2 separate regions of the Homo sapiens genome follow, and region 2 is linked to region 1. The links come from fine-mapping of genetic effects on gene expression. A gene starts in region 1. The other region holds a variant in brackets. All regions are shown on one strand. Distances are from middle to middle.

The links. PIP is the estimated chance that this variant, and not a neighbour inherited with it, causes the effect.
Region 2: its variant is the best candidate, but not a certain one, in a credible set for the expression of GAPVD1 in sigmoid colon (GTEx, PIP 0.55).

What each region holds. Positions count from the first base shown.
Region 1 is chr9:125,260,423-125,263,331 of GRCh38, reverse strand. GAPVD1 (GTPase activating protein and VPS9 domains 1) reads right to left here and starts at 1,506. Exons shown (of 28, transcript NM_001282680.3): 1 at 1,373-1,506. RefSeq lists silencers at 1,360-1,489, 1,428-1,609.
Region 2 is chr9:125,386,073-125,388,981 of GRCh38, reverse strand. No RefSeq gene overlaps it. Among named protein-coding and RNA genes, the nearest start is that of GAPVD1, 130 kb to the right of the region's middle. The variant C/G (reference allele first, on the strand shown) is at 1,682.

The DNA of each region.
Region 1 (2,909 bases):
GATTACAGGCATGGGCCACCACACCCAACTAATTTTTGTATTTTTAGTAGAGATGGGGTTTCACCATGTTGGCCAGGATGGTCTCGATCTCTTGACCTCAATGATCCGCCCGCCTCGGCCTCCCAAATTATTTCAGGAGTTCTTAATCTTTTTGTGCACGGACCTCATTGGCAGTTTGGTGAAGCCTATGGTCCCTTTCTCAGATTTCTTTTAAGTGCATAATTAAATACATGTGATTACAAGGGAAACCAATTATATGGAAATATTAGCAAAACAACAAACTAATATGGTCATAATATATGTACAGCCTTATTATCACATTAAATAACAATGTCTAACGGCGGGTCTAGTAACACCAGAAATTCAAAGAAGTGTTAACCATAAATGATATTCTGAGCTATCTGCAACTGTAAACATGATGCAAAAATATCCGTAATTTTTATTGATCACAAAGTCATAGGCGCTGCTAATGCTACTCTGGCTTGTTGTCCACATTCGTAACTGAAGGAAATAATAAGTTTCAGTTAGCAGTCAATAAAAATAATGATGTCATTTTATCCTCCTTCTAGTGAAAGGACCCTTCTAATTCTATCCATCAATGAACTCCAGTTTAAAACCCCTCTCTAGTTCAAAGTCCTGCTCAGAACTGATTTTCGTCATAAATTTAAAAATAAAAACACTGATTCCTCCTTTGACCTAGTTCTCATCTGAACCTATCACTATGTCTCCCTGTTTTTATGCACATTTATACACAGAACCCTGGGTGTACTTCTGTGGTTTGCCTAGCCAGCACTCACTACAATTTTGCCAGTCAATAAAAGGTGAAGTTAAAAGAAAAGGGATGGAAACAACCAACAGCTCCCTCACTTTCAGACCTCCGACAGCAAGTGGAAAGATGCCAAGTACAGTGAGTGTCTGTGTTAGGTGGGCTGCCCCCAGACCCGTGTGTCCAGCTTGTCAAGCTTCCCTGCAGCACGATATCTTTATCAGCGACACTCAGAAGACATTCCATTTCGTTCTCGCCTCCTATACTCAGTTCCCTACCTGCCGGGCCTCTCGTCTCTGGCCCCCACCCGAGGCCGCCCCGCGGTCCTCCTGTCCCTTCCCATCCCATCCCCCACGCGTCTCTCCCTCTCCTCAGCCCCAGGCCGCCCTGGCTCCTGCGCGCCGCCACATCTCTCCCCTGGGTCTAACCCAGTGTCCCCCGACCCCCACCTCGCCCGACACTGACGGGAAGAGCCCAGGACCCCGGGGTCAGTTGGACCTGACGGCCGGGCAGTCAGAGACAGGCTGCGGCCCTAGGCCGGAGCAACCCGGCCGCGAGGCAGGGAGCCGCTCACAGCCCGCGGACTAAATCGGGACGCGTACTCACCAAGGGGGTCATGCGGGGGAGGACACGGAGGACTCTGTCGGACCGCCACTCGGCCTCGGAGCCGTCGCCCTAGCCGGTGACTGCCCCCGCCGCCGCTGCCGCCACCTTCGCCACTCGCCTGTTGGCTTCCCTGCGTCCTGCAGCGGCGCTGCCGCCACGCCAGCGCGCGTGCGCAGCGCCGCGGGGGCCTCTGGGAGCTGTAGTTCCGCCCGGGCGGCTAGGGGCTCCCACTTCCGCCTTAGGCAGCCCTAGGTCAGCTGCCCCCTGAGGCTGTCGTGGGTGTCCGGGTCCGGAATCGTCTTCCGGAAGGCTGTTCACCAGGCCTGGGCCCTGGTTTCCGCCTGCAGTAATGCTGGACGTGAAGAATCCGACTGAGCAAGTATGTGTAAAGCAAAAATGTAGAGCGTTTTATGCTTTCTGTGACAACGCTCAGTTGCCCAGGACACATTATTCGCATGAATGACTCTCTCTCTTCTCTGTTTCTCTCTCACACGTACGCACACACTACTTACAAACCTCCCTTCCCTTTTTTTTTTTTTTTCGAGACGGAGTCTGGCTCTGTCGCCCAGGCTGGAGTGCAGTGGCTCAATCTCGGCTCACTGCAAGCTCCGCCTCCCGGGTTCACGCCATTCTCCCGCCTCAGCCTCCCAAGTAGCTGGAACTACAAGCGCCCGCCACCACGCCCGGCTAATTTTTTGATTTTTAGTAGAGACGAGGTTTCACCGTGTTAGCCAGGATGGTCTCGATCTCCTGACCTCGTGATCCGCCCGCCTCGGCCTCCCAAAGTGCTGGGATTACAGGCGTGAGCCACCGCTGCCGGCCCCTCCCTTCCCTTTTGTTCTAAGTGCCATTAATTGGTTTGGATGGTATCTGGATTTTCAGTGTAAAACCTGCCTTCCCACTTCTCAGTTTCTAAAATCTTGCTTATCATAAACTTCACCATGCAGTTATTTTAGGTAAGTCAATAAATGAACTGTCTAATAATTTTTGTAACACCATAACTCATATATTCAGAGGTCAAGTTAGCTGAGTTGAACAGTCTAGAAACCTTAAAATTGGAAGATACCTGCTTAAAGGTCACTAGTGCAACTGTTGCCCAGGCAGGAATTCCCTCCTGTACATTCAGCCAGATGGTCATCTTCCTGTTCAACAGTTCAAATTTCAGGGAGCTCACTCCCTCAAGTAATGCAGCCTGCTCCACTGTTGGACAGCTCTAAATGTTAGAAAGTTCTGCCTCCTGCTGAGCTGAAATCTGTTTCCCTTTATTTCCTTCCATTGCTGGTAGTTAGGCTGCCTGGAGCAATACAGAATGTCTTCCACTTGACAGATCTTCAAAAAATTGAGAACAATGATTATATCCTCCAATACTGGGAGTCTCCAGGCAAAAAAAGGAAAAAAGTAATAATCATTTCCCCAGCTATTTCAAATGTCAATCAACTCCCAAACTGCTTTCTATCTACTCACCTCTCTTGATGTCACCTTTAGGGGCATGGTGGCATATGCCTATAATCCTAGCACTTTGCGAGGCCAAGGCAGG
Region 2 (2,909 bases), 130 kb before region 1:
AAGTCCTGACCTCAGGTGATCCACCCACCTCCGCCTCCCAAAGTGCTAGGATTACAGATGTGAGCCACTGTGCCCAGCCCCAACATCTAAATTTTGCAGGGACACATATATTGAAGCACCCTCTGTCTGGCATGCACCTGCCCCACCACAGGGGTCCACCTGTTCCAGCCTCCCCATGCCACCTGCTGCAGGAAGTCCTCCGCAAGTCACTGGCCAGTAGTGGCCTCACCTGCCCTGCGCTTCCAGCCTGGTCTCTCACTGGGTTTGTCTGAGGCCCTGAACACATTCATCCAGGCATGTCCCAGCTGTTGGGGGCTCGGCTTATCTCCACCTTCCTCCCGCGGCCCCAGCCTTTAGCCAAATGCCCTGCAGAGAATAAGTACAGGCCACAACTCTGGCAGCAGCAAACCTCCTCCCTGACTTTTCTGTGTTCGTTGCGCCCAGCCCAGGGCCTGGCACCAAGCAGGCATCATCCCGTCCTCCATTCACCCGTCCATTTGCCAAACACACATTGAGCGCTGCTCTGTTCCAAGCTTGTGCTAATGGCTGGTCACACCCATGTTGAATAGAATAGACCCACCCCAGCATCTTAGTCAGCTGGGGAGGAGGTGCTGGGAGGGGCGAAGGCCTGGGAGGATCCTGACCCAGCCTGCAGATTGGCGGGAGGGAGACGTCAATGGGGCCAAGCCAACCTGGTGAGGCTGAGAGGCGAGTTTCCCAGAAGGCCTCCCTCTGTGCTTCCTGCATAGGAGCTTTTGAAATTGGAAGGGAAGCAGTGACCTTTGCTCTCTGAAGGTCACAGGAGGCAGCCATGGTGACAGGCAGACCCAGTGGCCTGGGGGGCTCCAGCTTGTCCTCGCCGTTCTCCACCCTGCGCTTGGTCTTCCTGACTGCTGGCCTGCTGACCAGCAGTGGCCCCAGGCCCACCCCAGAGGCTCCCCAAAGAACTCACAGAGGCAGCAGCTACACAGAGGCAATAGCTCCCAGGGGACCCTCCAGGAGCGTCCCCCACATCCCTTCTGGCAGCCAGACACACCTGGCTTCTCAGATCGCTGGGAGGTGTCAGCTCTGACCCCCCGTGTCCCCTCTGGGCCTTCACCTCCAGCTCCTCCCATAATCGTGTCAGGCCATCCCCATAATGAATCTGCATCCCATAATACCCGCAGTGGCTTTGCTTCCCTGATTGAACCCCGAGTGATACAGTGGTTGGTACTGGTGATGCTTCCAGGAGAAGAGAATCTTAAGGATGGGAACTCAGCATCAGTTCTCCAATCTCAGTGGATTTAGAGGTGTTCAGATCCTGCTGCCGGGGACTACACTGGGGCTCCATGGCACACAGTAGTGGAGCAGTTACATAACCCCTGGACCCAAGGCCCACAGAGGGCTCGGGTGACCAAGTCACTACTGGCATCAAATGTGTGGGTGGAAATAAAGGGCACAGGGACTGTGGGGTCACTTGGTTGCCTCTAAGTGCACTGGAAAACTAATGAGAAAAAGAGATGAGCTCAGGGCTTTGAATTCCCAGATCAAGGTTTTTGTTTTTTTGTTTTGTTTTGTTTTGTGTTTGTTTGTTTGTTTGTTTGTTTTGAAAGGGAGTCTTGCTCTCTCGCCCAGGCTGGAGTGCAGTGGTGCGATCTCGGCTCACCACAACCTCCGCCTCCCGGGCTCAAGCAGTTCTCCT[C/G]TCTCAGCCTCCCAAGTAGCTGGGACTACAGGTGCATGCTACCACGCCCGGGTAATTTTTGTATTTTTAGTAGAGATGGGGTTTCACCATGTTGGCCAGGCTGGCATCGAACTCCTGACCTCAGGTGATCCACCCACCTCAGCCTCCCAAAGTGCTGGGATTACAGGCATGAGCTACTGTGCTCAGCTCCCAGATCCAGTTCTGAGTGAAGAGCCAGACGTTGTCCCTGTGCCTGGAGACCCTTCAGTGCCCTGAGACCCTTTAGTGCCCCCTCCTGAGGTGGCCTCCACCTCCCATTGCCTCATCACAGGCGCGGGTTCATTATTGCTGGAGTGGGTTTCTTTTTTTTTTTTTTTTTTTTTTTTTGAGACAGAGTCTTTATCTGTCACCCAGGCTGGAGTGCAGTGGCGTGATCTCGGCTCACAGCAACCTCTGCCTCCCAGGTTCAAACAATTCTCCTGCCTCAGCCTCCCAAGTAGCTGGGATTACAGGTGTCTAACACCATGCCTGGCTAATTTTTGTAGGTTTAGTAGAGACGGGGTTTCACCATGTTGGCCAGGCTGTTCTTAAACTCTTGACCTCAGGTGATCCACCCACCTTGGCCTCCAAAAGTGCTGGGATTACAGGCATGAGCCACCATGCCTGGCCTGGAGTGGGTTTCTTATAAAAGGGTAAGTTTCCATCCTGGCTAACACAATGAAACCCCGTCTCTACTAAAAATACAAAAAATTAGCTGGGCGTGGTGGCGGGCACCTGTAGTCCCAGCTACTCAGGAGGCTGAGGCAGGAGAGTGGCGTGAACCCGGGAGGTGGAGCTTGCAGTGAGCCGAGATTGGGCCACTGCATTCCAGCCTGGGTGACAGAGCGAGACTCCGTCTCAAAAAATAATAATAATAAAAGAAGAAAGGATAAGTTTGGCTCCTTTTGCTCTCTCTTGCCCTCTCTGCACTTCTGCCATGGGATGACACAGCCAGAAGGCCCTTGCCAGATGCTGGTCCTTTGATCTTGGATTTCCCAGCCTCCAGAACCATGTGCCAATAAATTTCTGTTCTTTATAAATTACCCAGTCTATGGCATTCTGTTATAGCAGCAGAAAATGGACTCAAACAGCAGCTAAAAATTTTAACAACTTGCTAAATGTGGAGTGCGAGCTACTGTGAAGTATAGAATCTCCAGGAGCTGCAGACACAAGGAGAATTTTTACCCACTCTCAGGTTCTTCTCTAGGTA